Linked DNA regions of Homo sapiens: region 2 is linked to region 1. Evidence: fine-mapped expression QTL. A gene starts in region 1. The other region holds a variant in brackets. All regions are shown on one strand. Distances are between the middles of the regions.

Region 1 (4,383 bases):
TGAGGCCAGCGCCCGGCTCTAGGGGTCCCAGCACAGGGGTGGGGCAGTGCAGAGGCAGCTCCAGCCTCTGTGTCCCCAAGTCCACTAGACAGTCCCCACTCCTGTCAGGTGATGGGAGGGTGCCCTCACAGGTTGCCAGCTGCCCACGTCCCCAGCTGTTTTAGGTCCCGAGATGCCCCCAGGTGGGGCCAGAGCTGCCCTGGGCATCACAGCAGCATCTTGCCATCGTCACCGCCCCCAGCCACTCTCCAAGCTGAAGCACTGGCCTGTGTCCCCTTGGGCCCTGGCATGGCACTGCCACTGCCTGGCCTGTGGGTAGAGGCCTCATTGCCCTTGGCTCCTGCCAGCTCACCCCCACAGTGACAGCATGCCCGCCTGCAGGATTCACCTCAAAGGCCACCAGCCTGTCCTCTTGGCCCTCCATGGTGCAGCCTCCCCTTGGCCAGCTCGCCCCAGGCTGCCCCCCCAGGCGGGACTTTGGGCTCCTTACCTGCCATGCGCGGCTGTCAGGAGCTTGAGGCAGGTCAGGTCCCCACTGACGGCAGCGTGGTGCAGCGGCCGGGCTCCCTCCCGGGTCTCTAGCGTGGCCGAGTGGCCCTCGTGGAGCAGCCACTCCACCAGCACTGGGTGTCCAAAACGGGCGGCCAGGTGCAGCGGGGAGACGCCCGAGGCATCTTGGTCCTACCAAGCCCCGGGTAGGTCAGTGAGTGGGGGGTAGGCCGTGAGGTCAGAGCCAGCTGCCGGAGGTGGGCCCTGGGCGAGGGCTCACACTGCCTGCAACCCAGTGAAGGGGCTTCCAGCTCCTTCCTCCTTCCCTCCGTTTCTGCCTGCAACATGGAGGGAGGTGCTCCCTGCTGGGACTGAGGTGAGAGGAGGGCCAGGACTCAGGTCCAGGTCTTGGGAGGCCACCTCTGGCAACCCTGCCCTCTCCTGGGCCCGTCCCCAGTGTGGAGAAGGCCCTTTCCCACGCAGTCGGGTGCCCGCAGACACCTGCCCACTCTGCTCATGGTCAGAAAGGCTTCCCAGGACACCTACCTCTGGCTGGTCCCCTGCCCCAGTGCCCTCCCGCTGGCCACAGGGTCCCGGGGCCAGGGAGCGTTCCTACCACAGGTGTCAGGGGTCCAGCAGACCTGGGCCTTCTCCAAGGGCCCTGTCAGAATGGATCCCCAGGCAGGCACAGCTCCCGCCTGCTGCCCTTGGGTTTGGCGGAAGGGCCGACAGGAACAGGATGCTGGGCCGGGACTCTCAGGTGCTCTGGCGAGCCAGGTGCTGGGGAACCTTCCCGCTCCGCAGTCTAAGCAGGCCCCACCGGCCCCCACCTCAACTCTGACCTCTGGGCGGCGGCGTTCTAAGGCCGGTCAGTCCTGCTCACCCTCAGCCCTGAAAGCTCCACAGGGCTGAGCGACAGCTCTAAGGGCCTCGCCTGCACAAAGGGGACTGGGCAGGCAGGATAGGGGAGGGGGGCCCAGTAGAAACGATCCGGACAAGACGATCACCATCAGCAGCCCTAACTCCCGTCCCCCAGGGCTAGGCTCCCAGCTCTCAAGCCCAAGTTCCCACAGTGCTTCTGTAAGGATCCCTTTCTAGACCCTTTGGGAGGCAGGCCCTGTGGACCAGGCCTGATCAGAGACAGGGGTCCTGATATCTGGCAAGACCCCCACTGGCAACGCCCAGCTTCCTGGCAGGGAAGGTGATAAGAAAATTTAGGAGGTGTTCTTGGCTCTCAAGCCTTTGTGCTCTGAGAGGCGTGGGGCAGAGACGGTAACCACTGACTGAGTCCCCAAGAGAAACAAAGGGCCCAGGGCCATGGAGCCCGGGGTGGCCAGTACTCTGATCCTCCGTGGCTCACACCTCCCTGGTTCCACCCCAGCCAGCTTCGTGGAGCCAGGCTGCCCCATCCCCGCTCACCTGCAGACCGCAGCCCCCCTCGCGGACCAGCCAGCACAGCTCGGCCAGGCTGCCCGTGGCAGCGGCGTCATGCGCTGGGGTGGCCCCGTTGTGGGCCCGCTGGTTGCCGGGCAGCTGGGCCCGCTGCACCAAGAACTTGACGCAGTCCAGGTGGCCAGCCCGGGTGGCGTGGTGAACCAGGCCGGCCCCCAGAGCATCGGTGATGCCCGGGCCCAGGGCGCCAGCCTCCAGCAGCCGCTCCAACGTCGCCACATCCCCATCCTTGGCGGCCACGAGTGCCCGCTGCTTCTCCATCCTCTGGCCCGGGCTCTCAGTGGCGACTCATGCACAGGCTGGGGCTTCCTGTTTCAGACGTGGATGAAGCTGCCGGCTCTGGTTACCCGATAAGCTGCCACAGGGCAGATGGGAGGCGGTGGGGTGGGGTCGGGTGGGGGGACAGGCCTTGAGGACCTGCCCAAGCCACTCCCACAGTGTGAGGGTGCCAGGTGCCTGGAGCTGGGAGGATGGAGTACAGGGCACAGGGAAAGGCCCACACCAGGCTAGGTCAGGGCTGGGTATGGCCAGCAGAGAAAGGAGGCTGGCCCTGAGGCTGCTCAGATCTGTCCAGATGGCAGGAACTTCATCTGTGGAGCGAGGGCTGAGGATACACGCCACTGAGCTTCTCACAGGAGCCCCGAGTGGCCTGGGAGACAGTTCCCCCAACTCTCACAGAAGGGCAGACCCCCAGCCGCCACCACAGTGTGTCTGAAGTAAAGGGTGCCCAGTAGGTCTACATGTTTGGCTGTGTTGACACCCACAGAGCTGAGCGCCCCGCCTCTGGGTCCCGGCCCTCGGCCCTGGAGGCTCCTAGGAATCTCTGGGGACACAGTGGCTCCACGGGGCCTGCAATGGGCTCAGGACCCTGACTTGGGTGTGTCCAGGCCTCTGAGGCGAGAAGGTGTCAGCCCCTGCCTCGGCCCCCTCTCCAACTACACGGACCAAGTCTCTGGGCTGCAGCCCCAAGGGCCCAAGTACATTTAACCCCTTTCCAGATTGTTCTGGACAATCCATAGTTCTTCTTTAGGGAAGTCAGGACCACCACAGCCTCTTCCTGGCAGCAATGGGAAGCTGCAGATGGGGGACCCATTACATTTGTAGGGGCTTCCGGAGACACAGCCTCAAGCTGGATTTCTGGGCTAACGCATCATCACACAATGGTGACCTGGGGGCTGCTGCACCCCTGGCTTCCCCCCGACAGGCTCTGTCAGATGACTTTGTGCCCAAGCGCAGTGCCCACTAGAGAAACCACAGGATCCCCAAGTCGGGCACTGAAATCTTTTATTCGTTAATTTAGTTTCTGGCAAGTGTTTCCTCAAAATCATCAAGTAGTTCCTTGAACCGTAAAACCACACATTAAAAATGTTATTCCACTGAAAATGACTCCTATGCAAATATCGACATGTGATGTGTGTCCAAATGCCAGAGCATTTTGAGAAAAGAATCCTCTGCAAATAAAATTAAGGTAAAAGCTGAGTCAGGGATGATCCGATTCCCACCCCAGGAATGACCTGGAGCTGCACCAACTCAGCGAGGTTGGAGCTGAAACCCTGAGTTAATAATGATCAAAAGGGACAAGACAGGAAGGCCTGGGGACCGTGGACAGGGAAGTGCGCAGCCCTGATTGCCAGTGGGCGGAACAGGGTCAGGCTCGGGGAAGCAGGAGGGGTGGTGGGCGGTGGGCGCTGAGCAGAGCAGGCCTGGCCGAGGCTGGGGGCCACTGTGCACTGAGGCCAGAGGAGCAGGGTGGTGGGGGCAGCTTTGGAAAGGGACTAAAAAGGGCCTGAGAAGAGACCACTCTGGAAAGGTGCATGTAGAGGCCATGATCAAAACAAAAAAATCAAGTTTCCTACGTTCATGATAGCATTTGGCTGACAATGAGTTATAAATACTTGGATTCTATCTTCCAGATAAAAACACCTTCCAGGAAAGGGCACTCACAACAGGCGTGCCCAGTTCCCAGTGGGGAGGGTGGATAAAGCTAAGTGTTTCCGCTTCACCACTGGAGGACGGTTCTATGTGGGCGGTCCCATGTGGGCGGTCCCATGTGGGCGGTCCCATGTGGGCGGTCCTATGTGGGCGGTCCTATGTGGGCGGTCCCATGTGGGCAGTCCTATGCGGCGTTGGTGTCCTGGGCCCTGTGAGCTCTGCAGGGGTCCAGGGAAGGAAACTGGGGGTGCACACTCGCTGGCACTCCAGGACAAAATGCAGAGGGGGCATGAGACAGTCATCCTGGCACAGCCCTCAGGAGGGAACTGGAGGGACAACCCTGTGCCCTGCCACGGGCTTCCCAGAAGCGGGGTGGGGAAGGCGGCCCCAGTGCTAGGCCTGGTCCTCCAGCTGCGCCACGGCCTGCTTCAGGTCCTGCACGACGAGGTCCACCTCGGCCCTGGTGGTGCTGCGGCCCACGCTGAGCCGGAGCGCGTTCCTGGCCACGTC
Region 2 (4,383 bases), 130 kb after region 1:
GAGTTCCTGAGCAGGGCAGGAGACATGGAGACGCAGAGCCTCCTTGAACTCTCTTTTCTGTGGACTTGCACTTCTATTCTGCTACTTTGGTTTCTGCTTGTCGCATCTGCCCCCACAGAGCCTGTCCTACCCCAGTATGTGGGTCTGGCTGTCTTGCTGCAATAAACCCGCAAACTGGGCAAGTTTCTTAACCTGAGTCTCAGCAGTTTATGGGTAAAATGAAGGATCAATCTGGCAAGGCTTTGAAAAGTCAAACAAGAATTACCCCATTAAGTGCCTACTATGGCTCGAATGGGGCCAAAATTCATGCTGAAGCTTAATCCCCACTGTGGTAGTATTAAGAGGTGGGGCCTCTAGGGAAGTGATTGTCATCAGGGCTCTGCCGCATAAATGGATCAGGGCCTTATAAAAGAGCAGGAGGAAACTAGCTTAGGCCCTTTTTGCCCTTCCATCTCTTCTGCCATGTGAAGACACGGCAACAAGGTGCTATCTTTGAAGCAGAGAACTACCTGTACCAGATACCAATCCTACTAGGATCCTGGACTTCCCAGCCTCCAAAACTCTATTGTTTATAAATTACCCAATCTGTGGCATTTTGTTACAGCAGCACAAATGAACTAAGAAGGTGCCCAACAGAGGGCCTGGCCCTAAGTGCTCAGTATACAAAAGCTCCTATTAGCTACTATTAACCATGACAATGATTGGGTAAAGAAGATGGGACAGTCTGTTTGTCAGCTTCTACCCACTCCTCCTCAGCTGACATCCAGGCCCTCCTTGCTGCAACTCCTCAGGCACTGAAGCACTCACTGTCTACTCCAAGTACAGCAACAACACACCATTTTCCTGGCTTGTGCTGCAGATGGAGCCCGGAATCTGAGAAGACACTCAAGTCCTATCAGGCACACCCAAGTAAGGTGCTCCAGCTCTTGCCCCGCCCTCTGGGCCTCTTAGGGTAAAGCCTCCAGCACAACAGACGCTGAATACAATCTACTATTCTCCCAGGCTTAGTAGGTAAGGCCAAAATGTGAAATACCATTCTCACTCCACTTTCAACCAATCATCAGGCTGGATAATCCAAAACTAAGTCCAAACTCAGGGGCAGAAGGAGAGTAAGAAAAAGAGTACAGGCCAGGCACAGTGGCTCATGCCTGTTAGTCCAGCACTTTGGGAGGTCAAGGCAGGCAATCACTTGAGGTCAGGAGTTTGAGACCAGCCTGGCCAACATGTTGAAACCCCGTCTCTACTAAAAATACAAAAATTGGCTGGGCGTGGTAGTGTGTGCCTGTAATTCCAGCTACTCAGGAGACTGAGGCATGAGAATCGCTTGAACCCAGGAGGTGAAGGTTGCAGTGGGCCGAGATCATGCCACTGCATTCTGTCTTAAAAAAGAAAAAGAGGACACTGTTAAGTCCCCACAAACCCAGTGCCCTCACAGTTCCCATTCCTTCCCCAGTTTAACAGTGATTTGTGTCTGGGAAGGCCAAGCACAGCACATTTACATACACCAGCTCTTCTGCTGTTAGATTCTTCAGGACACGTAAATGCCTGCAATCTCCATGTTGTCAACCTAATACAACATGAAAACAGGGAGTTCGAATACACTAATCAACCCTTTGCTTTCTAGCTGCTCTACATGTAAGAAATGTAAACACTTGACGGGTACAGTGGCTCACACCTGTAATCCCAACACTTTGGGAAGGCCGAGGTGCGTGGATCACTTGAGCCCAGGAGTTCAAGACCAGCCTGGGCAACATAATGAAACCCCATCTCTACAAAAAAATAAAAAATAAAAAGACTAGCTAAGCATGGTGGTGCACGCTTGTAGTCCCAACTACTCAGGAGGCTGAGGTGACAGGATCGCCTGAGCCCAGAAGGCTGAAGCTGCAGTGAGCCATGATTACGCCACTGCACTCCAGGCTGGTGATAGAGTAAGAGTCTGTCTCAAAAAAAAAAAAAAATTTTAAAGAAATGTAAACACCTGTGATAAAGTAAGGCCAGGCACAGTGGCTCACGTCTGTAATCCCAGCACTTTGGGAGGCAGAGGCGGGTGGCTCACCTGAGGTCAGGAGTTCAAGACTAGCCTGGCTAACATGGTGAAACTCTGTCTCCATTTATGGCCGGGCACAGTGGCTCACACTTGCAATCCTAGCACTTTGGGAGGC[C/T]GAGGCGGGTGGATTATCTGAGGTCAGGAGTTCAAGACTAGCCTGGCTAACATGGTGAAACCTCGTCTCTATTAAGAATACAAAAATGGCTGGGCACGGTGGCTCATGCTTGTAATCCTAGCACTTTGGGAGGCCGAGGCGGGCGGATCACCTGAGGTCAGGAGTTTGAGACCAGCCTGGCCAACGTGGCGAAACCCCATCTCTACTAAAAATACAAAAAATTAGCTGGGCGTGGTGGCAGGCGCCTGTAATCCCAGCTACTATGGAGGCTGAGGCGGGAGAATCACTTGAACCCTGGGGGCAGAGGTTGCAGTTAGCCAAGATTGCACCACTGCACTCCAGCCTGGGTGACAGAGCGAGACTCCATCTCAAAAAAAAAAAAAAAACAAAAAAAAAAAAACCACAAAAATTTGGCCAGGTGTAGTGGCTCATGCCTGTAATCCCAGCACTTTGGGAGGCCAAAGCGAGCAAATCACCTGAGGTGGGGAGTTCAAGACCAGCCTGATCAACATGGAGAAACTCCATCTCTACTAAGAATATAAAATTAGCCAGGTGTAGTAGCGCATGCCTGTAATCCCAGCTACTCGAGAGTCTGAGGCAGGAAAATTGCTTGGTACTCGAGAGGCTGAGGCAGGAGAATTGCTTGAACCTGGGAGGCGGAGGTTGTGATGAGCCAAGATCACACCACTGCACTCTAGCCTGGACAACAAGAGCGAAATTCCATCTCAAAAAAAAAAAAAATGAGCTGGGCGTGGTGGCGGGTGCCCGTAATCTCCGCTACTCAGGAGGCTGAGGCAGGAGAATTGCTGGAACCCAGGAGGTGGAGGTTGCAGTGAGCCAAGATTGTGCCACCGCACTCCAGCCTGGGTGAGAGTGAGACTCTGTCTCAAAAAAATAAATAAATAAAATACAAAGTTAACTTTATTATAAATAAGCAAATTATAATCTCCTTAAAGGTTGCAACTGTTTCTTCATCTTTTATAGGTCTTATGACCCCCAAGAAACCGACTTCAAAGCACTTGAAAATTTTAAGAGTTTGCTAAATGAATAAATGCAAAATTTATGCTCAAACATACAAATGAATGCATATCTGCATGCACGCATACTCTCATACATTTTACCAACCCTTCTCCAAGGATAAAGTTTCTCCTCACCAACATGGATAGCAGAAGTCACGAAAACTCTAGAACACTATATGTTATTAATTCCGTGAAGAGAACTAATTTTTCACAAGATTCGCCGTAGGCTTTGACCTGAATAAAACAGGAAAAGATCCTAAGAGATTACAAAATTTGACTCCTTCCCCTTTACAGAGCAGAAACTATGGTGCTGAGAATCAGAAAGAAAGGAAGATAATGGCAGCTCTGAAACCAGTCTTAGGCTTTGCTGACTCTCAGCACCTTATTCTTTCTGCTAGCATTTTGGCAGACGTGACAAAGAACATCCCAAGTGTATAAGACACACTGCAGTTTCTAATACCATCTCCTTGCAACAGTGTGCTCATATCACCTGCGTGGTACAATGTCCTTCACTATAAGAGATAAGCAATTATATTTTAAAATCTTTTAAACAGGTATTTCTATTCAGCAGTAGGTTGCTTTATATCCCCAAAGACTCTCCAGTCAAACTTCCTTTTGTTATAGGATATAAAAACAGTTCACACGAATGATCATTACCTTTAACAAGCAATTTGTCTCTCACAGAAACCCTCCGAGTCGAGTCGGACGCTGTGGCTGCCGTCCGGGACCCTTTGAGACCATCGTCACGCTTCAGTTTACTTGCTAGCGTTAGCATTACTGCTGCCTTTACCCTGAAAGACAGCAATGAAAGCAGGGTTAAGGACCAGGTCTCCAGAGACTAATTAGACACTGAGAAAAATGTATAAGTGCTTTTGTATTTTGATTTTTTCCCACAATTTAGTTATGGAAAAAATTTGTACACATTAATAAGATTGGATTCCTTCATAATACATTTGAGAAGCTCTATGCCATCCTCTATAAGCCTAACTTTTAAAATTATGAATTAACATTTTTTAAAAAAGAGAGTCATGGCTGGGCACGGTGGCTCACAACTATAATCCCAGCACTTTGGGAGGCCAAGGTAGGAGGATTGCTTGAGCCTAAGAGCTCAAGACCAGCCTGGGCAACATGGCAAAACCCTGTCTCTACAAAAAATATAAAAAAATTAGCCAGGAGTGGTGGTGTGTGCCTGTAGTCTCAGC

Evidence for each region. PIP is the estimated chance that this variant, and not a neighbour inherited with it, causes the effect.
Region 2: its variant is the best candidate, but not a certain one, in a credible set for the expression of ESPNL in subcutaneous fat (FUSION, PIP 0.54).

The regions. Positions count from the first base shown.
Region 1 is chr2:238,098,239-238,102,621 of GRCh38, reverse strand. It overlaps ESPNL (espin like), which reads right to left and starts at 2,282. Exons shown (of 9, transcript NM_194312.4): 1 at 1,909-2,282; 2 at 491-681. The coding sequence starts at 2,202. It overlaps SCLY (selenocysteine lyase), which reads right to left. Exons shown (of 12, transcript NM_016510.7): 12 at 3,209-4,383. The coding sequence ends at 4,267. It overlaps UBE2F-SCLY (UBE2F-SCLY readthrough (NMD candidate)), which reads right to left. Exons shown (of 19, transcript NR_037904.1): 19 at 3,209-4,383. RefSeq lists enhancers at 1-74, 3,840-4,134, 3,769-4,383.
Region 2 is chr2:237,972,681-237,977,063 of GRCh38, reverse strand. It overlaps UBE2F (ubiquitin conjugating enzyme E2 F (putative)), which reads right to left. Exons shown (of 10, transcript NM_080678.3): 2 at 3,839-3,972. The coding sequence starts at 3,956. It overlaps UBE2F-SCLY (UBE2F-SCLY readthrough (NMD candidate)), which reads right to left. Exons shown (of 19, transcript NR_037904.1): 2 at 3,839-3,972. Among named protein-coding and RNA genes, the nearest start is that of UBE2F, 7.9 kb to the right of the region's middle. The variant C/T (reference allele first, on the strand shown) is at 2,163.